4 linked regions of the Homo sapiens genome follow. The protein of the gene in region 1 purifies or fractionates together with the protein of each later gene. This does not show direct contact. Each region holds a gene or a part of one and is shown on either strand. Other genes may lie near its edges. The genes, in order: GALNT6, ATP2B2, NDUFS4 and ATP2B3.

The links.
Region 2: the proteins of GALNT6 (region 1) and ATP2B2 purify together in Homo sapiens (affinity purification with mass spectrometry; 2 studies listed by BioGRID and IntAct, with this or other methods). This does not show direct contact.
Region 3: the proteins of GALNT6 (region 1) and NDUFS4 purify together in Homo sapiens (affinity purification with mass spectrometry; 2 studies listed by BioGRID and IntAct, with this or other methods). This does not show direct contact.
Region 4: the proteins of GALNT6 (region 1) and ATP2B3 purify together in Homo sapiens (affinity purification with mass spectrometry; 2 studies listed by BioGRID and IntAct, with this or other methods). This does not show direct contact.

The regions. Positions count from the first base shown.
Region 1 is NC_000012.12:51,374,384-51,381,408, reverse strand, and holds part of GALNT6 (polypeptide N-acetylgalactosaminyltransferase 6), read left to right. Parts: intron 1-1,524; 5' UTR 1,525-1,627; coding exon 1,628-2,118; intron 2,119-4,041; coding exon 4,042-4,214; intron 4,215-7,025. UniProt on the Homo sapiens protein: Catalyzes the initial reaction in O-linked oligosaccharide biosynthesis, the transfer of an N-acetyl-D-galactosamine residue to a serine or threonine residue on the protein receptor. May participate in synthesis of oncofetal fibronectin.
Region 2 is NC_000003.12:10,495,583-10,502,607, reverse strand, and holds part of ATP2B2 (plasma membrane calcium-transporting ATPase 2), read left to right. Parts: intron 1-7,025. UniProt on the Homo sapiens protein: ATP-driven Ca(2+) ion pump involved in the maintenance of basal intracellular Ca(2+) levels in specialized cells of cerebellar circuit and vestibular and cochlear systems.
Region 3 is NC_000005.10:53,598,627-53,605,651, forward strand, and holds part of NDUFS4 (NADH dehydrogenase [ubiquinone] iron-sulfur protein 4, mitochondrial isoform 1 precursor), read left to right. Parts: intron 1-4,825; coding exon 4,826-4,904; intron 4,905-6,097; exon of another isoform or gene 6,098-6,269; intron 6,270-7,025. UniProt on the Homo sapiens protein: Accessory subunit of the mitochondrial membrane respiratory chain NADH dehydrogenase (Complex I), that is believed not to be involved in catalysis. Complex I functions in the transfer of electrons from NADH to the respiratory chain.
Region 4 is NC_000023.11:153,520,630-153,527,654, reverse strand, and holds part of ATP2B3 (plasma membrane calcium-transporting ATPase 3), read right to left. Parts: intron 1-7,025. UniProt on the Homo sapiens protein: ATP-driven Ca(2+) ion pump involved in the maintenance of basal intracellular Ca(2+) levels at the presynaptic terminals. Uses ATP as an energy source to transport cytosolic Ca(2+) ions across the plasma membrane to the extracellular compartment.

The sequences.
Region 1 (7,025 bases):
TGCAAGCATTCATCCTCTAGGGCATGGATCCACATGCCTGGGGGTGGAGCCTGGTGAACGCCCATGCCCAGCCCTGCCGGGAATGTCTTGTCATGAAATCTTAGGTTTCTGTTAAATTCTTTTTTATTAAATAGGAGTAGATTACAGATAACTTTTATTTATTTATTTTTAAAGACAGAATCTCTCTCTCGCCCATGCTGAAGAGCAATGGTGCGATTATAGCTCACTGCAGCCTTAACCTCCTGGGCTCCAGCAGTCCTCCTGCTTCAGCCTCCCAGGCAGCTAGGACTACAGGTGTGCACCACTACGCCTCGCTAATTTTTAAAATTTTTTATTGAGATGGGCTCTCAATACGTTGAGCAGACTGGTCTTGAACTCCTGGGCCCAAGCGATCCTCCCACCTCAGCCTCCCAAAGTGCTGGGATTACACCATGCTTGGCCAAGAAATATTTATAAAATACGTATAGGGTCTAAAGAATTACAGTCCACCAGCAGCCGCCATCCACTTTGAGAAAAAAACACTTTGAAGTCCCCCATTAACCATCTCTAATCCTGTACCGTTTTCTTCATCTTCAGAAACTGGTTATGTCATTTCTTTAGCTTTCTTTTTTTCGTGGGGAGACGGAGTCTTGCTCTGTTGCCCAGGCTGGAGTGCAGTGGCATGATCCTAGCCTACTGCAACCTCTGCCTCCCGGGTTCAAGTGACTCTCCTGCCTCAGCCTCCCAAGTAGCTGGGATTACAGGCATGCGCTACCACGCCCAGCTAATTTTTGTATTTTTAGTAGAGACAGGGTTTCACCATGTTGGCCAGGCTAGTCTTCTTTAGCTTTCTTTATAGCTTTATCACATATTTGTATTCAAGAACAAGATATTGTTTAATTTTAGCATGTTTTTACATTTTCTATAAGTGGAATCATACTGTATGTATCCTTTTGTCACTTGCTTTTTTCACCCAACAACACATCCACATTGTTGCATGGAGAAGTGGTTCATTCTTGGTCATCACTGTAGAGCACTGCACGGTATGGGTATTTTGCACTTTATTTATTCATTCTGCTAGTGGACTTAAAGGTTTTACCAGTTTGTTGCCATTTAAGTCAGTGTTGGCTTAAATGTTCTTGTACATACCTCTTGGTTTGCATCTACCAGAGTTTGTCTGGGATATAAAATGAGGAGTGGAATTGCTGGCTCAGGCTGTGTTCATTTCAAATTTTTCTTGATAATACCAAGTTGTTTCCCAAAGCCATAATGATTAAATCTCATGAGTTTAATGATTAAATCTCATGTAGTGTTTCAGTGTTCCAGTGACTCTAGATCCATGCATATTAGGATCTTAGGGCAGGAAAGAAACACTGCCTCCGGTCTCCTCATTTTATGGATGAAGGAAATGTAGATATGGGAAAGTTGTGGCCAATAAGGTGATGCCACCACTCAGCAACAGAGCCTGGCCTCGAACCCCAAGCACCCGACTCCCTCCTTACCCTGTGTTGGCTCACTTCTCTCTCTTGTCCCCTCCTTTCTCAGGCTGAGGCCCCAGCTTGTGGCCACCACAACGTATCAAGCTATCTCCAGGGTTGGGCTCAGGACTCAGAGCTGACGCAGCTGGGGTGCCCCTTGGTTCTGGAGGATGAGGCTCCTCCGCAGACGCCACATGCCCCTGCGCCTGGCCATGGTGGGCTGCGCCTTTGTGCTCTTCCTCTTCCTCCTGCATAGGGATGTGAGCAGCAGAGAGGAGGCCACAGAGAAGCCGTGGCTGAAGTCCCTGGTGAGCCGGAAGGATCACGTCCTGGACCTCATGCTGGAGGCCATGAACAACCTTAGAGATTCAATGCCCAAGCTCCAAATCAGGGCTCCAGAAGCCCAGCAGACTCTGTTCTCCATAAACCAGTCCTGCCTCCCTGGGTTCTATACCCCAGCTGAACTGAAGCCCTTCTGGGAACGGCCACCACAGGACCCCAATGCCCCTGGGGCAGATGGAAAAGCATTTCAGAAGAGCAAGTGGACCCCCCTGGAGACCCAGGAAAAGGAAGAAGGCTATAAGAAGCACTGTTTCAATGCCTTTGCCAGCGACCGGATCTCCCTGCAGAGGTCCCTGGGGCCAGACACCCGACCACCTGAGTAAGTAGCACCCAGAGTCCTTGTGGGGAGACCAGGGCTTTGCTAAAGGCATGGCTAGTATGGCCAGGGCCATAGATCAAGGGCCAGAGAAAGAGTTGAAGGGAATTTTATAATATGGGCAAGGATCTCCTCTATGCCTCACTTCTTTCCCAGAACAACTGTGCTGATCCCAGGGGTTGTGATTCAAGGGTATTATGGTCAGGCCAGAGGCCCAGGGAGACCTGTGAGAGTGAAATGCAATTATGAAAGTGAGATGATGTGGAAGAAGGAACTCAGCCTGGCACCAGGACCTGGCACGGGGTGACTGGGGAGACCTGATACCAAGCTGTGGTTTCAGTAGCTTTCTCCTCTACTGAGGCCTGCTCCAGAGACTGTGGGACTCTAATGCTGAGCTGTTTGGGGGGGGGGTGGGCATTTCTTAACAGCAACCCTGGTGGTTAGGAATATCCTCACACCTGGTTTCCTCCAGTGAAGGCCCACAAGGCCGGAATTGATTCCAACCTTTATCTGAAGTTGTTTATAGCCTCAATCTTGCACAATGAGATCTCACTTAGATCTTTGAGTGGCAGCCCCCTCCCTCTAACGCCCCCATGGCTGCATTCCCATGATCCTCAAGTTAAAGACAGTGTGTCTTCCCCACTTAGCCTTTGTCTTTTCCAGGTCAAGTGTTATACCCTATTTGGCCTTTTCTCAAATGGCAGCCCTCATCCCCAGATTTCGTGAGTCTTTAGGGCTGTGAACCTGAGGTTCTTGAGACTTGAGCCAAGTATGATAGCCCTAGAACAAGGGGCCACTTGAAGCTATCAGGAATTCCTCAGCAGAGAAGGGCACTGGGGCCAGGCACAGTGGCTCATGCCTATAATCCCAGCACTATGGAAGGCTGAGGTGGGTGGATCTCTTGAGGCCAGGAGTTCAAGACCAGCCTGGCCAACATGGTGAAAGCCTGTCTCTACTAAAAATACAAAAAAATTAGCCCGGCATGGTAGTGGGTGCCTGTAATCCCAGCTACTCAGAAGGCTGAAGGACAAGAATCGCTTGAACCTGGGAGGTGGAGGTTGCAGGGAGCTAAGATCATACCACTGCACTCCAGCCTGAGTGACAGAGCAAGACTCTGTCTCAAAAAAAACAGACAGAGAGAAGAGCACTGGGTGTGACAGCAGCCAGAGGAGGAAGACAGGGAATCTCTCTGGAGGGTCCCCAAGAAATCCTCTGACCAGCAGAGGAGGTCAAGGAAAGGGTGTGAGGTCACATGATTCCTTGAGATCCAGGATTCACACATTCCCACCCCAACCCTGAGATAGAGTGTCAAGAAGGTAGCAGCATGGCCAAGTGCCACAGAGTAGCTGGAGTGGATGAAGTTGGAAGAAAGGTTGCAGGAAATTGACTGTGATAGTGGTGTCAAATCACAGGGAGTTAATGAGAAAATGGATTAGAGAGGAACTGTACGCTGTAAAGGGAAGAGCCTTTTCTTCTCATTGAGTATGGAAATCATAGTCACTTTTCTCAGATGTCAAATTTGGCCTTTATTACCTACCCCTCTGGGACCTCTGGATTGGATTACATTTTATGCAGTTCACATATTACGGAGGAAGAGAGCCAGCCCTGGGAACTCCTAGCCTGAGAGCAGATAGCAGATGAAGGAAGGGGGTGGAGGAGCCTCAGCATCACAGCTGGGGCACTGAGCCAGCTCTGTGGGGATGGATTTTGGAGTGGTTTGGCTAGAACCTGTGCAAAGGCTCAGGGTGGGTGGCAGATACCGGGGAAGACAGGAACAGGGAACAGCTGTTCCCACCTGCTATAGAGAATGTAGGCTGTGGTTCAGAGGAGTGGAGGATGGTCTGGGGGAGTCTCTGGATGGGGCCCTCCCCACACCTGGTACTCCCAGGGACCAGGAGAACTTTGTCCGTACTTTCATACTTCCAGGTGTGTGGACCAGAAGTTCCGGCGCTGCCCCCCACTGGCCACCACCAGCGTGATCATTGTGTTCCACAACGAAGCCTGGTCCACACTGCTGCGAACAGTGTACAGCGTCCTACACACCACCCCTGCCATCTTGCTCAAGGAGATCATACTGGTGGATGATGCCAGCACAGAGGGTGAGGCTGGAGGGGCCCAGAGGAGGGGGCCGGGGTCTCCCCTGGGCACTCAAAGGAGGAGGGCAGTTCCTTTCAAGGGAGCAGGCACCACCTCATGAGCCTGTTGCCTGACATCACAGCTCATCTTAAAGGCCAGGAGCAGGAAGAAGTCAGGTAGGGGCAGGTAGACCATGCTTCCTTCACACCTCAGCCAAAGAGCTCCAAGAGCTTTTCAGCTCTGGCTTCAAGACTCCCTGAACGCTGCCAAGGCCAACCCTAACTCAGAAATGCTGGGAGAGACAGGGCAGAGGGTAGGGACAGGCCTTCACCTCTGTTTCCTACCCGCTGGGCCACTCTTCTGCTCTTGAAGACTCCCCAACCAGCCCTTTTTGCCATAGCTGTTGATAGGTAAGTGGGGTTGCTCACCAAACTTCCAGCCTTCAATTCCACAAACATCTACTGAGTACTGTGTGCCTGGCTCTGACCCAGGCAGAGGGGATGCCATGACAAAGGAGACAGACCCTGCCCTGAAAATACTAAAAACCCCCATAGGTCAGAAGCCTTTTTTTTTTTTTTTTTTTTGAGATGGAGTTTCGCTCTTGTTGCCCAGGCTGGAGTACAATGGTGTGATCTCAGCTCACCACAACCTCCGCCTCCCAGGTTCAAGCGATTCTCCTGCCTCAGCCTCCCTAGTAGCTGGGATTACAGGCATGTGCCACCACACCCAGCTAATTTTGTATTTTTAATAGAGATGGGGTTTCTCCATGTTGGTCAGGTTGGTCTCGAACTCCCGAACTCAGGTAATCTGCCTGCTCCAGCCTCCCAAAGTGCTGGGATTACAGGCATGAGCCACCGTGCCCGGCCAGAAGCCTCTTACAACACTAGCCACAGTGCTGTGGCAGTGATGCACCTGTAACAGGTGTGAAAGGGCATGGACTGCAGAGTCCAACACCTAGGAATTCAAATCCCAGCTCTGACCCTTCCTAGCTCTGTGACCTTGGACAAGCATTTGGCCTCCCTGAACCTGTTTCCTCTTCAAAAAATGGGGGCAGACCGGGCACAGTGGCTCAAGCCTGTAATTTCAGCACTTTGGGAGGCTGAAGCGGACAGATCACTTGAGGTCAGGAGTTTGAGACCAGCCTGGCCAACATGGTGAAACCCCATCTCTACCCAAAATACAAAAAATAATTAGCCAGGTGTGGTGGTGCGCGCTTGTAGTCCCAGCTGCTCGGGAGGCTGAGGCACAAGAATCACCTGAACCCGGGAGGCGTAGGCTGCAGTGAGCCAAGATGGCACCACTGCTTTTCTGCCTGAGAGACAGAGTGAGACTCCTTCTCAAAAAAACAAAACAAAAAAAAGGACTGGGCGTGGTGGCTCACGCCTGTAATCCTAGCACTCTGGGAGGCCGAGGCAGGCAGATTGCTTAAGGTCAGGAGTTCGAGACAGCCCGGCCAATATGGTGAAACCCCGTATCTACTAAAAATACAAAAATTAGCCAGGCGTGGCAGAGCATGCCTGTAGTCCCAACTACTCGGGAGGCTGAGGCAGGAGAATCGCTTGAACCCAGGAGGCGGAGGTTGCAGTGAGCCGAGATCATGTTACTGCACTCCAGCCTGGGCTACAGAGTGAGACTCCATCTCAAAAAAAAAAAAAAAGAGCAGTTGAGTCCCTTACATGGTGGGTGAGGGATATGAGATAGGTCATAAATGAGATTCATGTGCCACAGAGTGGCTGGCATCAAGTAAGAGTGTCACAAGCATGCATTCCATTTTATTCATGGTACGAGAACAATGCACCATGGAGTATGTAGCCAGGAGGTGCCATTTCTGCCTGGCGTGGCTAGGGCTGGTCTGCAGTGGAAGCCAGATTGGAGCTGGGCCTTAAAGGATGAGTGTCTAAGAGAGAAGAGTGGATGAAGGGCATTCCCACAAGAGAATGGCATAAGCACAGTCCTAAAGACATGAATGTGTTTGTTAAAGAGATCTGGTGTGGCTGAAGCTTAGGTTTGTTTAGGAAATGAGACTTAAAAGATGTTAAATTGGCCAGGGACAGTGGCTCACCCCTGTAATCCCAGCACTTAGGGAGGCCGAGGCGGGTGGATCACTTGAGCCCAGGAGTTCAAGACAGCCTGGGCAACATGTCAAGACCTTTTTTCTATAAAAATTACAAAAATTAGCCTGGCATGACGGCATGTGCCTGTAGTCCCAGCTACTCGGGAGGCTGAGCCAGAGCATGACCCTGTCTCAAAAAAAAAAATGTTGAATTGACATTCATGTCATGCTAAAAGCATTTATTTAGAAAGTAAGAAGGAGTCGTTGAAAGTGTTTCATCTGTACTGTGACTTCATTTCAGAAGGATGGCAGCTTTGGAGGAGGATAATCGGCAGGAAGAGAGGCAGAGGACTCACAGTCTGGAGAGGAAGTTCTTACACTCACTTGAGAGTAGGAGATGATGGGGCCTGAACTAGGAAAGGCTGTGGGACTGAGACACCTTTAGGCTGAGAGTCTCCACAAGCTTAGCCCTCCTCGTAGGAGGCATGTGGTGTCTGGGGCTCTCCCAGATTGACCTCCTGTGCTCAAACTCCCAATAGTGAGGGCAGGAACTGACTCCACACTTCCCAGTGTAAGCGCTGGGGCCACTCCAGTAGAGCTGCTTCCTGTCCTTGTCCTCCCCCAGCCTCCCTCCTTCCTCTAGGTTAGGGGTGATGCTGAAAAGAGGACTAGGGCTGTGGAAGGAAGGGCTGAGTGTGAGCCCTGTTGAGTTCATTTCTTCAGGAAGCTCACATCTTCCCAGGGAAGACAGATACTTGGCAGCACTTATAAAGCAAGGCCA
Region 2 (7,025 bases), on another chromosome or scaffold:
CCTAGCTGGGACCGTTTATAAAAAGGAAACTGTGGCCCAGCCAGGCACAGGGACTTGTCCAAGGTCACACCGTGTTCTGTAGAGACCTGGGCTTCTTGCAAGTGCTCTCAGGCCCCAGACAAGAAGCAGCAGAGGCCTGTGTTGGCCCCTGGTTTTCCCCAGGTGTTTGACTGTGGGTGGAAAGTATGAGAGCCCTGGGCCCAGCCCTGCTCCTGACCAGCTGTGTGATCTTGGCCAAGTCACTTCCTCTCTCTGCCCTCAATCTTCTCATCTGTGGCCAGGCAGGCCTATCTCTGCCCTGTTTTATGCCACAGCTGCCAGAGAGCCCTGGACACTGTAGAGGGCTGTGCACGAAGGTGTGATTGGCATCAGGATCAGGAGCCGGAGCAGGTGAGCACCTTGCTGCTGCAACTGGCCAACTCTGAGATCAGAAAGGGAAAAAAGGAAAGAAATCTCTAGTTTGCAGATCGGAGGTCAGAAAAGCTGCCTGTGGCTTATGCTATGTGCAGAGCCTGAAACACTGGCCCATCCGCCTGCTGTCCCACTGCCCTCCTCTGCCTTCCCCCTGCCCAGCCACAGGTATGGGTCAGGAAACCCATTAATGCATTAATTAACCTAAAGATCACCTGATGGGGGCAGATTTCTGGGCCCTACCTTGATGAATCAGGAGGTCCCAGGGGCTACATTTCCACAGGTACCCCTGGGTTTTCACCCATTTCACTCCGCACCCTGGGGAGCTGAGGTGCTTAAGAGTGGGCTTGGTGGAGCACATAGGCGCTCAGAGCTGGGGGTGGCCTAGACACCATGCTGTTCTGCCTGTACCTGTCACACGTGGGGAAACTGAGGTCTCCAGCCTAGTGGGTGACTGAATGAGACTGAAACTCATTTCCTCTCCCCACCAGTCCCCTACCAACCCCTAGCCCCTGGCTTCACCCTGCACAGCTAAATCAGGCCCTCCTGAGGACCGATGAACCCTCAAATCCAAAACAAGGCCATCTTCTCAGCAGACAGCTGGGAGCCATGCTCCAAGGGCACTCTCCAAGACCCCATCTCTACAAAAAATTTAAAAATTAGCAGGGTGTGGTGGCATACTCCTGTCGTCCCAGCTATGCAGGAGGCTGAGGTGGGAGGATCGCTTGAGTCCGGGAGGTCAAGGCTGCAGTGAGCCGTGATTGTGCCACTGCACTCCAGCCTGGATGACAGAGCGAGACCCTGTCTCAAAAAAAAAAAAAAACCGTTTAAAAAATGGGTTATGCTATGGAAAACTCCTGGGACCTCCTGCTGGGCAGTGTGGCTTCGGCTTCACCCCGGTCTTCACTTGACAGTCTGGATGGAGGCGGCGGGAGGCAGGGGGAAGCGGGAGTGACGGTAAAAGCCTTAGAAGTGTCATTCACAGTCTAGGAAATCTCTGCAGGGTCAGAGAGTTCCAGATATGTGGCCAGAGACCACGGCTGGCAGGACCAGGAGGGCAAGTGACCAGGCCCGAGCAGGGGCCACAGCTCAGGTTCCTAAAGAAACAGAGGTCCCTGGGTATGGGGGAGAGTGTGTTGGTCTGAGGGTCAGGAGAGCTGGGTCCCAGGCCGGCTCATCACTGGCGAGTGACCTTGGAAAAGCTGTGTAAGCCCTCTGGTCCCAAGCTCTCCCCTTGTGAGAGGGGTCAGTGATCCTGCCCCCCAGTGTCCTTGGTGAGGGCAGCTTCTCCTGCCCACTGCCCCTTGGGGTGAAGGGTCAGAAACACTGCAAGTCTCAGGAAGTAGCAAGGAGAGCAACTGCAGGGACAGCCCGTTGTGTTTGTTTTCTGTGGCTGCCATAACAAATGACCACAGGCTAGGTGGCTTCAAACAACAGACGTGTATTGTCTCCCACTTCTGGAAGCCAGAAGTCTAGAGTCAGGAGCCAGCAGGGTTGGCTTTTCCTGGAGAGGCTGAGGAAGAGCCTGTCCCTTGTCTCCCTAGCTACGGGCAGTGGCCAGCAACCCTTGCTCTTCCTCACCTTGTGGCTGCGTCACACCCATCTCTGCTTTCATCTTCACCTCACTCCTTCCTGTGTGTCTCTCGGTGTCCTCTCCTCTGCTTCTAAAGACATTGGTCATTGGATTTAGGGCCCAACCTAGACCCAAGATGATTTCATCTCAAAATCCTTAGCTAATTCCATCTGCAAAGATCCTATTTCCAAACAAGGTCACATTCTGAGGTTCCAGGTGGGCATGAACTTTGGATAGGACACCGTTCAACCCACTGCAGTCACTAAGATTTATGAGGTGTTTATTGCTCATAAGACCTGCACACAGTCTTATCTCTTCTTCACCATCACCCATTTTCCGGATTACAGAAACCAGGGCCCAGAGACATTAAGAATGTGCCCAAGTCAGGCCAGGCGCAGTGGCTCATACCTGTAATCCAAGCACTTTGGGACGCCAAGACAGGTGGATCACCTGAGGTCAGGAGTTCGAGACCAGCCTGGCCAACATGGCAAAACCCCGTTTCTACTAAAAATACAAAAAAAGTTAGCCGGGCCTGGTGGTGCATGCCTGTAATCCAGCTACTCAGGAGGCTGAGACAGGAGAATCATTTGATCCTGGGAGGTGGAGGTTGCAGTGAGCCAAGATGGAACCATTGCACTCTAGCCTGGGTGACAGAGTGAGACTCTATCTCAAAAAAAAAAAAAAAAAAAAAAGAATGTGCCCAAGTCACACAGCAAGTGAGGGGCAGAGCTGGGATTTGAACCCAGGTCCCTGGTGCTCCTTCACCTTTCCACCTTTTTGTAGCTGGCTGGGGGATGCCCAGAGACCCCTTAGGGCCCACAGCTAGGAATCCATGGGGCAGGAATTCCAGCCAGCCCTATGAAGACCCCAGGTCTGCAGGGGCTCCTGGGCACCAGAGAGAGGCTGGAGACAGGCAGGGGAGCTTCAAGGTGTGAAGGGGCCCAGCCGTGGTCCCAGGAGACCAACATGTGGCAGAGGATTGAGAGCCACAGTTCCTTGTCTCTGCCACTGACTCTGTGAACGTCATTGTGCTCTTCCGGAGAATAGGGGCAGCAGCACTGACTTTATGGGGTAATTGCCAAGTACCGAAATGTTCATCATAATAGTACTAATCGCTAAAATGTGTCCGCAAGCACTTTACAAATGCTTTTTGTTTTCCCATGTAATGCGTGGGAGGGGAATTGCTTATTCAGTCATGTGCGTTCGGTTGTGTGTGGTTGAACCAGTGACTTCGCCTCAGTTTGCTCCTCCGTAAACCAAGGGTTAGCTGAGCACCCATCTTCCCGGTTGTCACGTGAGGCAAACAGGATCCAAGTACAGGGCTTGGCCCGGGTGTGGTCCAGGTAGAGGCTCAGCGGATGTTTTCTTGCCTGTAAGATGGGATAGTGGTAGTATTATGATGATGCTATTATTTGTTGTATGAGGATTTGGTGAAGTAATGCAAAGGAAGCACTTGGCTCAGGGCCTCGCCAGAAATTGATGGAAAGTGGCCTCCTTTGTGGCATCAGAAAGATTTGAGTATAAATCCTAATGCCAGTGTTTACTACTGTGTGACCTTGGGCAGGTAGCTTTGCTTCTCTGAGCTTGACATCCTGATATGCAAAGTGGAGTGGGAAAAACCTGCCTCACAAGATTGTGCCACGAGATGATGGGTAGGTAATGTCTCAAATGGAACCCTCATCATGCCAGGCATTCGAAATATGTTGAGCTTCTGCCCTGCTTGTGGGCATCTTAAAGATGTCCCCAGAAGGGGCACATCCTAGTCCAAGGAGGGTGGATTTGATTTGGGAAAATTGGGAGCAGTCGTGCCATAGTGGAGCATATGGGATTGGTGGAGCCTATGGGAGAAGCAGTGAATGGATGACACCGTTTGGGGTCCAAGCACCATGTAGCTTTGAAGGAAGAAAGCAGGTCTCTGCAAGCTTCTGTGCTGCCTCTGAAGGCAGTTTCCTATAAAGTGGTGCCTTTCCTGTGCCGGCTGGGCTACTCTACCGGGCCATGTCTGGCTGCCCCGGGACCATTTTGTGGGAGCCATGGGGGCGTCATCTGGATGAACTCATTCTAGCCCAGCTCTGTCAAACACCTGCCTTGCAGGCCCAAGGGAGCTGTGGAGGCAGTGGGCGGGGAATGCTGTGGCAGCCATTTGGGGTGCCTCCTGCATGCCTGAGGCATCCACGCTGAGTGAGGCCCCCAGGCTCATCCGGAGCAGAGGGTGCTGGCCTCCAGCTCACTGATCCTTCTGAAGTTTTTTGATCTGTGCCCATGGGCAGGGCACGCCATCCTACGTGGGCCTGACTTAGCGTTGATGTAGCGCAGTAGTTGAGGACAACATCTGGGCCCAGGCTGCTTGGGGTCACATCCAATGCCTGGCCGCTGACCAGCTGCATGTCCTTAATCTCCAAGCCTCCGTTCCCTCCACTGTCAAATGGAGATGACAACACTGCCTGCCTCATCAGGCCGTTGTGTCGGAGACTGAACTGTGCGGATTCCAAGATATACATTTTGACATTTCTGAAGCCAGGTTGTGCCTGACAACTGGTGTTACACCACAGTGGAACCAGCCATGCCTTTTATTTCTTAAATATACGTAAAGTAGTGATACAGGTTAGAGTCAAGAAAATATGATAAATAAGATCAGTTTTATAAGGGGCTCAGAACAGAGCCACCAGGCTGGTGGGAAGAAGCCAGGATTGCCACCTGCCTCCCCAGCTCAGTTGCGGTGAGTCCCTCACTGGGTCCTTTGTGTCCACTCTGAAACAATCAGCAAAAGAACACCTGCTTGCCGGAGCAGCTGTGAGAAGTCGGCAAACTTTTGTGTGTATTACGTGACCAGCAGAGTCCCCATATGCAGTAGGTGCTTAATAAATGGCCGTGCAAAACAAACAGCAAAGACCGTAGTACAAGGAGGAATTTAAAGCATAGACTCTGGGATTCTAATTCCTGCTCCACCATTTCCATGCTGTGTGACCCAGCACAAGTTTCTTAATTTCTCTGTGCCTTAGTCCCACCATCTGTAAAATGGGGATAACAAAAGTGTCCAATTCATAGGATTGTTGTGAGGATTAAGTAAAATTAAAGTGCTTAGGACAGCCCTTGGCAGAAGTGTAAGCAATTATTATTTGATGAACTTTAATGAGTCTCTTCTAGTTCAATAAATGATACTAAAATAAACACTAGGCTCAATAAAATAATAGCAGTTGAGGCTGCACTTGCTTTATAGCTGAGAAAACCAAGGGCCAAGAGGCATGCTGGTTTGCCCAGGATCACACAGCCAGCTCCCAGCAGACTGGAACCACAGCCCAATGTCCAGGCACCAGCCCAATGCTGCCTCTTTGCCCATGTTGGTTCAGGACTCTTTCTCTTATGGAGAAAGCAGTTCTTGCCATGGAGAGGAGGGTTTCTAGAAGAAGCCACCAGCAGATACATCACCAGTGCTTCAGGGATCCACAGGGTAATTAGGGCCCTCATTAGAAGTCGTTTCTGTCTTCCCTCAATTTTCTGCCTGACCACCACAAACAGTGGAAGGGGCCTAACTGGGATGCCCACCCTGCCCACAGCTGCCCAAGGTCAGCAGAGCCTGCCAACCATCCTGCAAGCCCACCAGCCAGCACTCTCCTGGCCTCCAAGTGGCTTCTGCAGAGTTGACACAGCAAAATTCCCTCCTGGAGACAGCAAAAGCCGTGGCTGGCCCGTTGGTCCAGCCACCAGACAGGCTAGGGCCACAAAGTGGATTGGAGTTGGGGGGAGGACAAAGACCTGGGTGCAGCCAGCCATGACAAGCACTTCAAGTGACCTTGGACAAGTCACAGTCTCTTTCTGAGCATCAGTTTCCCATCTTTGAAACAAGCCTTTTGGAGCCAGATGGGCCCCCTGAGACTTTAAATGTCTAAAATTCGAAGCTGCCTGGACATTGCTGATGTCCAGGTCACGGGGGAAGGGGCGGGGTTGGAGGGGTGGAGCTAGTGTCTGCGTGTGGAGTGCAATGTGTGTGGATCTTGGGTTGGACTCACTAGGAGCAAGCATGAGACAGCGCTCAGGAGAAAGGGGCTGAAAGGAAACAAGGTAGGGAGAGAAAGAGATAAACAAGCGTGTGGCCTCAGCTGATCCCTTGGGGGATGTGGGGCATGAACTGCGCCCCAGGTTTGGCTCTGCCTTGAAGCAAAAAAGCTGGCCTTTCATACCCCATATCAGATAGTTATTGGCCACGGCTGCCTTCTGAGTGGGATGCTGTGTGCAATTGCCCGGGCAGGAGCTCCTGTTCTTCCCAGGGCAAGCCTGCAAAGAAGGGGCAGCCGGGAGCTCTAGCTCCCAGCAGCTGGGGTGTGGAAGCTGCAGACCGGTAAGGAGGACTAGGGTGGGCACCAACAGTGTCCACTCTGTTATGTGGATTTGGGATGCAAAGGTTGCTGGGTGCCAGTCTCTTCCTAGCAACTATCTGAAGGCAGCAGATTAAGAGCTCTTTAGGCCACTTCTAAATTTATCAACTTACATGACTCACTTCAGATTAAAATGAAGCCCTTCTCCCCATCCCACCCCCAGCCAATTTCAGATTTCTGAGCTCAGAGCATCCTGAAGAGGGCATAGAATGCAAATCAATAAAACCAGTATTAGCTAAGTATTTGGTGTGGACCAGGCTGTTTGTCGGGCTCCTTGCTGAGCTCAGAGATGAATCAGCTCCAGAAACAACTCCTGCTGGGAGGCGGAGGCAGCCCCAGGTAGAAGGTGGTATACGACTGCGGGTGCCCTGCCTGGGGGCTAGGCCATGAATAACTTCCAGGACCAAGACTCAGCCTCACCACCACAGTATTTAGAGCTTCCAGAGCCTCAGTTTCCTTATCTACAAAATGGGGTCAGTGTGGTGAAGAGTATGTGGCCTGGGCCACTCCTGCACTCAGGGAGTAGCAATAAAATTAAGCGAGACCTGGCACTGGGACCCAGGGCTGTTTCTAGGCACTTCTCTGCCCTCTCAGAGGCCTGAGTCTGCCCCATGACCTCAGGGGAAGGAAATTCTGAGCTGAGTGGAGACATCAGCTTCCCTGGC
Region 3 (7,025 bases), on another chromosome or scaffold:
ACTGATAAAAATTTATCTCATATTGTTATCAAGCTGTATGTAAAAGACAACACAATAAAAAAGACAAAAATCTCACCAAACTGTTTTACTTAACCAGAGTTAGAAATAAGGTTTATTGATAAAAACCAGGATTAGAAATAAAGTTTATTGATTTTCATTTTCAGGATATCTCTTTTTCTTTCAGGAAACTTATACAGAAAAACAGAATAAATGGCTTGTACGCTTATAATTACCTTGACCAGTAATGGTAATTAATAATCACAATCACAACCCTCAGAGTTTATCCTTTGGGCTGAGAATTAAGAATGATACTTTACAAACCTGGAAATGTGAGCAGGCCAATTAACAAAACAAATAGATGGACAAAAATAAAGGCAAACCCATGAGGCAAAGAATGTTTTTAAGTTTGTCAAAAATGAATATTAAACAGCAGAGTGAGTAAAATTACCATTTATTTTCTAATGATTACACATTAGTCATTGTTTCTACATGAACACTTACTACTGAGAACACTGTTTTACTGGGTACATTGCCCAGTAAAATATGATTATTAATATTTTGGCTGTTTTTGCTTTTGGCTATTTGAAAAATGCTGCTATAAACATTGGTGTACAAATATTTATTTGAGTCTTCACTTTTAGTTCTTTTAGGTATATACTCAGTAATGGAATTGTTGGATCATAGGATAATTCTGTTTACTTTTTGAGAAACTGCCATACCATTTTCCATAGTGGTAGTACCATTTTACATTCCCATAAGGGTACCAATTTCTATACGTTTCTGTTAATACTTATTTTCTGTTTTTATATACTAAAATGTTGTAAAAGGGTGTAAAATGCTACCTCATTGTGTTTTGATTTGCATTGCTCTAATTAGTTCTGTTGAGCATCATTTCATGTGCTCATTAGCCATTTGTATATCTTTTTTGGATAAATGTTTATTTAGGTGTTTTCCCCATTTCTAATTGGGTTGTTTTGTTGCTGTTTGAGTTCTTCTTTTAAAATTTAGAAATGACCCCCTACTTACTTGTACAAGTTCTTTTACCTCTTTTAGATGTTGATTCCTTACTGTTCTATTTTGTATTATTTTCTTCTTGTCTGTCTTACACTTCACTTACAGTATATTTAGTTTTGATGTTTTTGGTTTTATGTAATAGCTTCTGTCATTTTTTCCTTTATGCTTTCTAGGCTTTATATCTTTTTTTCTTAACAAGGTTTTTGTACTCTTAATATTTTCCTTCCATCTACCATTTCACTGATGTGACATTCCTTACAGGCTAATCAACAAACAGATATTTACTGTATAATTCATGTGTAGTCTAAAATTTACTATAGATTATACTTTGTAGGTATAATTTTTATTTATTTATTTATTTTATTATTATTTTTTGAGACGGAGTTTCATTCTTTGTTGCCCAGGCTGGAGTGCAATGGCACGATCTCAGCTCACTGCAGCCTCCACCTCCCGGGTTCAAGTGATTCTCCTATCTCAGCCTCCCGAGTAGCTGGGGTTACAGGCATGCACCACCACGCCCAGCTAATTTTGTATTTTTAGTGGAGACTGGGTTTCTCCACGTTGGTCAGGTTGGTCTGGAACTCCTGAACTTAGGTGATCCGCCATCCTCGGCCTCCCAAAGTGCTGGGATTACAGGTGTGAGCCGGCCCGCCCGGCCTATTTTTATTTTTTGTTTATTCATTTTTTGAGACAGTGTCTCACTTTGTTGCCCAGGCTGGAGTGCAGTGGTGCGATCTCGGCTCATTGCAACCTCTGCCTCCAGGTTCAAGAGATTCTCCTGCCTCAACCTCCTGAGTAGCTGGGACTACAGGCATGCCCCACCAAGCCCAGCTAATTTTTGTATTTTTAGTAGAGGTGGGGTTTTGTCATGTTGGCCAGACTGGTCTCGAACTCCTGACCTCAGGTGATCCACCCACCTCAGCTTCCTGAAGTGCTGGGATTACAGGCGTGAGCCACTGCGCCCAGCCCGGTAGGTATAATTTATTAAATGCTGTGTTCATAATTGACTGTGGACCTTCGTTGCTACCTTAACTGTCCAGAATTGGAGAAAAACTTTTCTCCACATCTGATATTTGAGTCCTTTAATAATTGTTTTCTGCTTAGAGGGTAGTTTCTTATCACATGATATAACTTACACAAGCACACGTTTTAATTTAGGCAAATTTTTCTGAAATAATTATTGTTTTACATAAAAATTAAAATCACTCTTTGCAATCTAACCTATCTTAAATTTTTTTACAAAAAATTTTTACTGTAACTTTATGGTAGGATTGTTTTACTTAACATTTTTGTCCTTTTTATTGTATTATCTTTTACATACAGCTTGATATAAATTTTTATCAGTGCGTTTGTTTATAATAAATTTTTTTTTTTTTTTTTTTGAGACGGAGTCTTGCTCTGTCGCCCAGGCTGGAGTGCAGTGGCGCGATCTCAGCTCACTGCAAGCTCCGCCTCCCAGGTTCACGCCATTCTCCTGCCTCAGCCTCCGAGTAGCTGCGACTACAGGGGCCCGCTGCTACGCCCGGCTAATTTTTTGTATTTTTAGTAGAGACGGGGTTTCACCGTGTTAGCCAGGATGGTATCCATCTCCTGACCTTGTGATCCGCCCGCCTCAGCCTCCCAAAGTGCTGGGATTATAGGCATGAGCCACCGCGCCCGGCTACACATGTTTACAAAAGATGTTATATAACTTTATTATTACAATTAGTTGGAGGTTAACCTAAAATTATTAAAATAAACCTATCCTTAAAGTAAATTATATATGGTTTTATAAATTAAGAACTTTACTTTGGATTACAACTAATATATACTAAGATTTTCTTAAACAATTAGGACATAATCGTTTTAAGTTAAATCCCCTTTGTAGTAAAAAATTGCACAAAATGGGTACAGAGTTTTAATCTACCTAATAATTTGCACTGTTTTCATCTAACAGGTCTCTTCATTTGAGAAAATATAGTGTAGCTTTTCACGGTTTTAGTTACCCACGGTCAGCTGTGGTCCAAAAATATGCAGTGGAAAATTCCCAAAACAAACAATTTATGAATTTAATATTTGCTCCATTCTGAGTAGTGTGATGAAATCTCATGCCGTCCAGCTCTGTCTCACCCAGGATGTGAATCATCCCTTTGTCTAGTGTATCCAGGTTGTATAGGATACCTGCGTTAGTCAGAACTTAGTAGCCATCTTGGTGATAAGATTGACCGTCTCAGTATTGCAGTGCTTGTGTTCAAGTAACCTTTATTTTACTTAATTGATCTGTTTTATTATTAGTTATTGTTAATTTATTACTGCCTAATTTGTAAAGTAAACTTTATCATAGGTGTGTATGTATTAGAAAAAACAGTGTATGTAGGGTTCAGTTCTATTAACAATTTTAGGCATCCACTGGGCGTCTTAAAATGTATCGTACAAGGATGAGGGGGAGCTACTTACTGCATTTAGAAAATGTGATAACATTTTCTGATATTTCAGATTCTCATGAGTTCACTTATCATTACCCAATGTTTTTCTTGTAATATGTGGATTTGTTTAAAAGTATTTAAATTTTTTAATTGCCATGTTACTGACCTTAATGATTTCCAAAATAAAATAGGTATTAAGAGTTGCTTAATTATACTTCTTTAATATAACAACCAGGACATGTATTTTAACTTTGTGTAAATCATCTAGAGTTATTTCCATGTTAGTACATTTTGTGTAGGTATATTTCTGAGTGGGGCATTTACAGTGATAAAGAATTACATAATACCTTAAATTTGGTAAATAATTGACAGATATTTTAAAGTATATTCATAAAGCAGTAAAACCTCTTGTATTATGTTATCTTTAAATTATAATTAAGAAGGTTTTCTATATGGCTGTGTACACATTATCAAAATTGAACTTTTAGCACAAAAAGTTCAACTATTTGTATCAGTTATTTTTGTCAATTATTGGTTATTATGTTGCATTAAAACTATGGTAGTGAATATATTGTATTAAAAAAAAGAAAGGACCAAATGCCATATATTTGGGGTGGAAATTTGAGCCACAGTTGTGTATACTTACTTTTGCAATAGAAATCTATGTCAGATAGCCTAATAGTTTGGAAAACTCTTAAGATGCTAAAATGTCACAGCACAGTCAGGGATATGTATGACATTCAGTAGTATAAACAACAAAGTGTACATGAAACGTCCGTTAACGTTAAGTAATTGGAGTGAGAGTAGGAAAATGCTAATATAAAGGGGCTAGATTCTCTGCCCATTTTACGTCTAACTTAATATTTTCATTTTAACTAATTTTATTTCTCCCATTTTGTGAATGGGCTACAGGACTAAACTAATAACATTAGTTATACAAATCATTCCTATGTAAAATACTTTTGGTGTGAAATTAGAGTGAATAAACTTTTTATTATGATTGGGATTTTTTTCTTTTCGTTTCTGATGCCATCCGTTTAAGAATCAGTGTTCCAGAACAATTGGTATAGCTTTGCATGTTTCTGGCTGGTCGTGACAAATCAGCCACTGTACACTCATAGACAGCAGTACAGTACTTGTCACTGGTGGCCTTTCTGTGACAGAGAGCCTGAAGACTGACGTAAAGCGCAGCCTGTTGTGAACTGTCAAGTGAGTCTGCCAAAAACTCAGCAGACAGAACTAATTGCAGAGAAAAAGGACTTTTGTGCCCTCTTCTCTTTCTTTCCTTTCCTTTTTTTTTTTTTTTAATAAGACAGATATTGTTAAAGTAGCTTGTTTATGTAAGATTTGTCTGTCTCTCCTCTCATTGCCTGGATCCTTTTTTAACTTAAAGTCTTGCACTGCAGGTCGTTGAGGACTTCCACATGGAGATTGGCACAGGACCAGACTCAAGACACACAACTCATAACAGTTGATGAAAAATTGGTAAGGATTTTCTACTACACACTGCTATGGTTCTGCCTTCAGGGTTATTTTTGTACTATAGATATTCAGTATGGTGTTCCAGGTTTTCAGGAAAGTGATTTGAATTTGAATTTCTAGATTATACCTAAATTTTAAGAAGAAATATTTGTCATCAAAAGATAATTTATATTAAGCATTATAAACAAATACAAAACCATATGCAAATATTAATAAATTAAAATTATGAAAGGTTTTCATTTTTGTGGTGTTTATAACTAGCAGAACATTCATTACTTTTTGTAATGAATGTTTTGCTTTTTATTTTCTCAGTTACACTCCTATTTAAGTTGTGAGATACTTGCTAGTACTATCTAAAACTAAATATATTAGGTTTTCTTGGAAGCATGCAACATTTATTATCACTATATGTATATATGTATATGCATACAAACACATACACACACATTTTATTTCTTCATATGTATGAAGAAATAACTAGCAAGCAACTAGCAAACAACTAGCAAGACCAGCAACAAATGAGTAATAATGTTTTGTGAATCAGTAACAAACAGAATTTTGGCAGCCATCACTTATAAAATATTTTAGAGTGTGGTCTGTTACTTTACATGCAACTTTATATTTATGCTTCAATAGCATACATTTTGTAATGTTTCCAAAACTTCTGATAGAAATGAGTAATTGTATATGTGTGCTTTTCATTTTATATCTGGTTTACCATTATCAGTGTTTCTTAACTACCCCCTTTATTATTGTACAGTATTTTATCACTCAACTTTGAGCCTGTAAGCCCAATCTAAGTAATAGGTCACACTTAAATTTCTATTTGCACCATTAAAGATACAGACAAATAAATGTATAAGTAAATAGAGACAGTTTGGAAAATTCACATCTTGTGCTGACTGGTTTTATTTTAAAATTATCTCTTCAGTTTACCTACTGACATTGTCATCATCCTGATCTAGGTTACATCATCTTTCACCTAGATTTCTACAGTAGTCTTTGACCTGATCTCCCTAGACTCTTTAATCCTAATCTGATTAATTTTCCTTAGGATGCCAAAATAGTCTTTGAAATGCTGGTATTGTCACCCTCTTTTCGTCCTTTGGTGCTTCCTGTTGCCCTTAGAGTAAACACTAAAATCCTAACATGGTCTTTGACGTCTTGCCTGATTTAGCTCCTGCCTTCCTCTCTAGGTTTATCTTGTACCACTGTGTTTTACATTCTGTGGTCTAGCCACACCAAGCCTGGAACTTGCTACTCTTTTTCCTGCTTCAAGGCATTTGGAGTTCCTGTTCACTCTACCTGGATGCATTTTAACTAATCCTGAGGACTTCATCCGGTCACCATCTACCTATTCTTCAAATGGTAATCAAACACCACTTGCTTAGTCAAGTATAAAAGAAATGAGGGGCAGGGCATGGTGGCTCATGCCTGTAATCCCAGCACTTTGGGAGGCTGAGGCGGGTGGATCACGAGGTCAGGAGTTCGTGACCAGCTTGACCAACATGGTGATACCCCGTCTCTACTAAAAATACAAAAAATTAGCTGGGCGTGGTGGCGGGTGCCTGTAATCTCAGCTACTCAGGAGGCTGAGGCAGGAGAATCGCTTGAACCTGGGAGGTGGAGGTTGCAGGGAGCCGAGATCGCACCATTACTCTCCAGCCTGGGCAACAAGAGTGAAACTCAGTCTGAAAAACAAAACAAAAGAAATGAGGCAGTTATGTGTGTATGAAGTGAGGATGATTTTCACATCCTGTGTGTTCATTAATGAGAGCACTATTATTTTAATTTTTCCTATGAGCATCTTTTTTTAACTCTCAGGAGGTTGCCTTTTCTATAAAGTTTTCAAATTTTAGAGTTCACTAATAACTCTTCTAAGTTCTCTTCTTTCTAGTTTGAAGAATGAGTGAGTCAGCCAGTAATACATTGCCCTAAACAGAGTGCTATGAAGCATACAAGAGAGGTAGACAGACTGGATTGGTTTGGTATTTTTAATTATATGTCATAAAATCGGTTGCATACTGTTGAATTTTCTTGCCCTACCTAGATTTTCCCCAGCTTTGTTATACCTTTCTTGAAGTAATAGTTGTCCCTCAGTACCTGTAAGGGGATTGGTTCTAG
Region 4 (7,025 bases), on another chromosome or scaffold:
CCCTCACAATGCTGGGTGTCCCTGGATCCCACGGGGAGGTTGGAAGCCCCTTTGTGATTGGGGCCAGAAGTCTACACTGAGGGTTGGGGGACAGTCATTTGTTTCCTGCCAGAGAAGGCAAGAGCTGCAGAAGGAGAGAGCGAGGGAGCAGGAAGCATAATGACACTAATTATCCAATTACAGCGGGTGTGCGAGCTGCATAGCAGCGTGAGCCTGGCCAGCCACTACCCTGCCCCTACGTGCTCCCCACGCCCCTCCTGCCAGCCCGGGCCTGCCCAGCAGCCCCGAAGGCAGGGACGGCATGGGGACCTAGAAACGCTGTGGCTGTGGCCAGCGTGAAAGACTCTAGCCTACAAAGGGACGGAGACCTCGTGTTTGGGGTCCAATGGGAAGCCGGGTCCCTGTCCTCCCAGCCCTTCATAGCCAGAGAGCACGTGGATGGGAGGAGAGGTGCCCCAAGTCGGCCCGGCTCTGCTGTGGTACCTCGGTGCCCGTCCCAGCCCGCTTCCAATCTCAGAGCCAGCTCTGAGGACCGGAAGCCGTCGGGGCCTAAATAGGTAATTAAGGAAATTACAGGCAGCTGGAGGCCATGGGGCTGTGGGCCCTGGGCTAAGTCCTTCCAGCTTGGACAGGCAGTGACTAAATAAGGAGCTACCAGGACACATACACGTGTCCTCCTAGGGAACGAGTCCCATGGGGCCCCATTAGGAATCCTGGCAGGGGCAGTAGAGAGGGCATCCTGGTTTCTGGAAGCAGGCCAAAGTCCTTGGGAGTACAGGCTGGGGGGATGCATTGGTGTCAAGGTCAGAGGCCAATAAAAGGATCTGGGAGGCAGACCTCCAAATGGGGGCTCCAACTGAAGATGGGAGTCAAGCCTGCCCTTCTGTGATCTAGACCCAAGGAACGAGCACACCGAAGTATCCGTGCCACTCTCCCCAGCTGAGGGGGCAGGATGCCTGCTGCCAAATGTGGTGATGGAGGAAGAGCCAGTGGCGAGGATGCCCAGAGAGAGGGTACCTCAGAAGCTGCAGCCGAGGCTGCAGGACGCGAAGGTCATCAAGGGCTTGGCTGCTGTCTGAATCGCGTGAACTGAGCATTGCTGGTTCATTTTTGAATTTTGCCTAAGACACTATTTCTGAGCGAGGAACCCGGCATACGAGCCCAAAGCTTTTCCAGCAAAGCCCAGAGGAAGCACCACCAAGTTCCTGCCGTGCTCCAGGAGTGCCTGAAGGGAGTGCAGAGGCAGAGGCCCCCTCTCAGGCCGGGACCCAACACCAACACAGGGCTCCGAGTCTCTCCCTCAGTGCGCCCCACAGCCCATCAGCTCCCCCTACCCTCCCACCACCAGCTGCTCCTCCAGTTCCTGACCCTCTTATCATCATCTGTCATCAGCACCATTCCTCCCGCCCCCTCTGTGCTCATGGACAGATGCCTGCTCTCCCCACTGGGAAGGCACCGGGAGAGCACAGCTGGGCTGGGGACAGGACCTGAAGGGGTGGATTTCTGCTCTGTGTGCTCACCCCCTCCCCTCCTCCCTTAGGGGAGACCCCAACCCTGCCCGTCTCCATCTCAGATACCCCCTCCCACGATTGTGCTATAGCCCAGCTTCCTCCTTCGGGGAAGGGTGGATGGGGCGCAGAGGGCCAGGCGGTGGCCTGGGAGCCCTGACCCACCCCATCCCACCTACAGACACAGCCACGAGTGCCTCCCTAGGGGCTACCAGGGCAGGCGTCTGGGGCAGTGGCCCCCAGGTCAGCGCATTCTTACCCTCTGGCCCCATGGATGGGTTACAAGGGGGGACTCTTGCTCCACTCCCCAGGACAGAGGTTTCCAAGCCTAGCTGCTGGTCACAGTGTTGTGGGCAGATGAACCACAGGCCAGGAGGGAGAGATGAGACTAGGTGGGAGACGTGCCCTACCCGTCCACAGCCCTCCCTCTTCTCCTGCACCAGACGTGGGACCATCTGCTGGCAGCCGCCCTCTGACTACAGGAAGGTACCCAGAGACCCCAGGAGCCAGAGGAGCCAGGACCAGCTGCTCCTGAGCCCATCTCTCCTGGGCCTGTGGCTCCAAGCCAAGATGTGGCAGTGTCTGGTCCTGGATGCTTCCAGGAGAAATGGAGCTGAGGCCCATGGTGGGGGGCGGAATGGACCCTTGTGCCTGGTGAGCCCTTGCTCTGCCCGAGAATTGGGGCTGGACACACTCTCCTGCTCCTGCTGCTCTTTGAGGGAGCCAAGCGGTTACTGCCGGGCTGGTCCAACCTGGAGAAAGGGCCCCTTCCCATTTGGTCACGCCCTGTGCCACCATCACACCCCTGGCCCGCAATCTGTGGGAATGTAGGTTCAGTTTCGAACCGGCCACTCCATGCGCCTTAACCCGGTTCAGGGTTTGATTTGAAACGCCGGAGTGCAGGGAATTCTGAGTGTCAGGACAGTGATTTCCAAAAGAGCAGCAGAAAGGCCTAAGTCCTGTCATTTGAGGTCATCTTCTGCCGGCCCACAGTGGCTTCCCAATCTCCCGCGCTCTCTTGTACTGCCGGCTTTGTTTTCGTGTTTCTCAGTCAGGAGGCTGTGGCGTTCCCAGGGCCGTCTGGCTATCCTCAGCTGGGGGCCTTCACTCAGGATGGCGCTGTACTGCCCACACCCGCCTCCCATCTGCGGAGAGTCAAATCCACAGCATCTGCACAGAGCCAGCCGCCACCCCACCCCATGGGGACCGGACTCATCTGCGGCTTCGGAACTCTGAGGATGTCCAGAGAATGTATCACCCAGTGCTTTATCTTGGCGGGGAGGGAGGAAGGGGGTCTTGACAAAGTGGTTCTGAAGTCCACTGGACAGAGAAGCAAGCTTTAGGATTGCTGAGGTGGGGCCGGCAGGTCAGGTATTAAATGATACCAGGTACAAGAGGCAAAAGCACATCACCGGTACAGCAGCACACAGATGGGCCCGTGGGTCAGGACAGGCAGCCAGCACCAGGTCTGACTGCAGACCAGTGTCAGTGCGTGCAAATGAGCCAGGGAACAACCGATTTGCTACTAGAGATGGGGACAACTGGTTAGCAATCTGCAAAGGATGCACCTTAGATCCTCACCTCAAACTATCCCCTAAGACACATCTCATTTGGATTCAACAGGTTTGGCAAATTACAGCTTAAGTGCCAAATCTGGCAGCCCAGTGTTCTTGTGAATAAAGTTTTATTGGGACACAGCCTCACCCCCTCATTTCGCATTGTCTGTGGCTACTTGCAGGCTACCATGCAGAGTTGAGTAGTCGGGACAGAGACTATGTGGCCTGCAAACTGGAAATCTATTTACCATCTGGCCTTTTGCAGAAAAAGCTTGCTAATCCCTAAATTAAAGAGTTAAGTATCTTAAAAATGCAACTACACCACCCCAATACACACACACACACACACACAGACACACACACACGAAGACACATGGAAAACTCAGAAATGAACAGCTCTCAAATTTCCGAAAGGGATTTTCTAAGCCTAGAAACAATGGAAGAAATCACAAATAATTGTGAGCAACAAAGTGTTTACCTTTTGCATGAAAAAAAAAAATGGCAAAGAACAAAGGTCTTAAAAATTATTTGCAACAAATCTGTTAAATTGTCACTGTTTTTTCATGCATACAGTTTATTCAAGCCCACAGAAGAAACACTAAGACTTCAATAAACGCCTTTCATTCCAGCACTTTGGGAGGCCGAGGTGGGTGGATCACCTGAGGTGAGGTGTTTGAGACCAGCCTGGCCAACATGGTAAAACCCCGGGTCTATTAAAAATACAAAAATTAGCCGGGTGTGGTGGCGGGCCCCTGTAATCCCAGCTACTCGGGAGGCTGAGGCAGGAGAATGGCTCGAACCCTGGAGGTGGAGGTTGCAGTGAGCTGAGATCGCGCCACTGCACTCCAGCCTGGGTGACAGAGCGAGACTGTCTCAGGGAAAAAAAAAAAAAAAAAAAAAAATGAAGGGAGGAACAGATAATTCACAAGGAAAAGACAACTTATAAACATGAGGAAAAACGTGCCCCCTCATCAGCAATTAAAGACATATAAAGTAAAGTACATATTTTTGACCTAGATACTTATGACAATTTGTTTGATTAAAATATCTAATGCTGGCAAGGTTGCAGTGAGCGACACCATGCAGTGCGATGAAAAAGCCCTTTTGGAGAACAATTTGGCAGAAGATACCTCTGCCTGGGCCCTCTCCTCAGGACAGAGGCTCCTCAGCAGAGCTCACGCATAAGAGCAAAATAAATCTGACTGCCTGGGTTTCCAAAAATAGCCAAATAATTAAGCGAATTACAATCTCTTGGGAGAATATTATTCAGCCATTAAAAATTGTAATTACTGAAGGCCGCCTGATACATCCCGGGTGCTTGGTAAATAACTGTTGAATGATCAAATTTCTTCTTTGCATGGTTCAAGATCATTCTTTCTTTTTGCAATAAGCACTTACTGCTTTTATAATCTTAAAAAATTAAACTATAACCATTTTGAAAAAAACCATTCATTTAGGAAGGGATTATATTAATAAAGAAAATGCTTATGTGAAGTAAAAAACAGATTACACAATTGAGCCCATGGTATAATGACAGCAATGTGAAATGAATCAAATGGAGATGTTGGATTTACATTTGCATGATAGGATGGCTTTACTACATTTTCGACTTCTCTGTGTTTTATACGTTTCCTATAGAGAGCATATTAAGAGTATTGTTTTTAAATAGGAAGAAATCAATTAAAAAAAAAAAAACCCACGTCTCCTCCCTGCTGTTTCCTGAGCACAGGCAGTGCGCTGGGCATATGGTGGGGCCTAATAAGGACCAGGCGGTGGCCGGATCTGGTTTTTGCCCCATGCTGGGTGTGCTAGGACCACTGGAGTCAGCACGAGGCGAGGTCTGGGCATCCCCCACAGCACGGTGAGCTGCTGGGACAGAGGCCCTTTCCCTCCTCCCTGGTCTGTGTTTGTCTAGGTATCTGCGCAGCCCCTGGAGAGTACATGCTTGGCCACTGCCTTCCAAGGAGGCATGGGGCAGTGGGCTTGGTGGGGGGTGTCTAGGTCCGTGTGAGGACTCGGGTCTCCATTTGCTCCAAAGCAGCTCTGTGTGACAGTACATCCCGGAGTCTCTGCACTGTCCCATATGGTAGCCACCAGCCATGTGTGGCTACCTGAGGAGGCGGGGTCAGGGCAGGATGGGCGGGGACTCAGGTTGTGGACCCGAGCCCTGGGAGATACCGGCTGGCCTCGTGGCCTCAGTCCATCCTCCCGGCCCCAGCCAGGTTTGCACTCTTACTTTGGTGAACACTGAGCAAAGCACAAAGGCTCCAGGAGGGCAGGAAGGGCATTGCGTTTGCTTTTTGCTTTCCGTCGTCTCCCCTGAAGCAAACACAGAGCCTGGCACACAGTGAACCAGGGCAGTGTCCCTCATGCCCATCACATCAATAAGATGTGGCCCCCTGGCATAGCTGGCGCCATTCTGACAATAGAATGCACTCATCCATTCTGAGGAACGACCCGTTCAAGCCCAGCCTGGCACTTTCTGTCCCTACCTGTTAAGCTCTCAGACTGGAGCCTGTCCCACCACAGAACACCTCTTCAAATTTCTGTGAGCAGTCAGCCCTCTTTGGGGCTTCTCTTCAGGATGGTTCTCTGGGGGAGCCCAAGCTGCTGCATTAGTGGCCTTGTGCCACCAGGGAGTGGGTGTGGGAGGTGGCTTCAGGGTCCGTGTGAGGACTTGGGTTTCCATTTCCTGTAGAGCAGCTCTGTGTGACAGAGCATTCGGGAGTGATGGAAATGTTCTCTCTCTGCACTGTCTGTGACGGTAGCCACCAGCCTTGGGTGGCTCCTGAGCCCTTGAAATGTGGCTGGTGCACCTGAGGAAGTGCATTCTAATAAAATCGCTGCTTGGACAGTGCAGCTGGAGAAAGTGCCTTGAGCCTGTGGCCTCAGGGGAGAACTTCTCACTGGAATAAAATGGTTGCTCGCTTACTGAGAGACCCACCTACAGAACAAGAGAGGCTGGCTCAGGACCCCTTTAAATAAGGTGCTCTTCAAGGACACGGACATACTCGCTTTGTACAACTTTGATTTGGAACCAAGACTCCGGAAACCTCCTCGTGCTCTAAAAGAGTCCTGCCAGTCCCAAGATTCCCCAACCATTGGCATTTCCACCCTTGCCTTGTTGCTCTGATTCAAGTCCTGCCACCTACTCAGCCATGTGACCTTGGACTTGTCTCCTTCCCAACCTTGGGCAGTCCAGGATGCCCGAATTCCCCTGCATTTGAGAGCCTGCTTCCCTCTGCCCCAGTGACGCGTGGCTCTGATCCTTCTCCGCAGGCTCCCAGGCCCACTGCCAGCACCGCCCACCCAACAGAAGGAGCCCAGGCAGGGGAGGGCTTTCCAGCCAGGCGCTGCTTGGCCTGGCTTCTGCCAGCTTAGCCAGGGTGGGGAAGGGAGGAGCCCTGTGCATGCTCCAGGTCTCTGCCTGGCATACCCAGCCCGGGGCGTTGCTGGGGAGCTTGCTGCAAAGTCACAGCAAGAGGCTTAGAGGGAAGTGTTTGCCTTCAGTACCATGGCACAGGTCCCCATCTATCAGCTGCCATTTACGTGCACTGCCAGTGCTTCCGGGTGCCCTGAAGGGGCCATGAATGCAGAGCTAAACCGGTCCCTGAGTTGCTGGAGACTGATATAAATCCACCTGTTGTCCATTTCTCTCAGTGGGTAGACGGGGCAGAGGTGCAGGTGGCTCAGCTTCTGAGCTGCAAGGTCTTCCCAAGAATCCCCGGCTTCAGCCCACAAGGCTGGGAGTACCCGAGACAGTGAGTTCACACGAACCACACTCTACTCTGCTGACTTCCGCACACACTTCTGGAGATACAGGAACTAATGGCTACAAGCACAGACCAGACTCCGGAGCCTGATGGACTACATTCCAGCCCTGGATTTGCTACCTACTGGCTGTGTGACCTTGGGCAAGTTACCTAGCCTCTCTGGGCCTCAGCCGCAATGCAAAATGGGG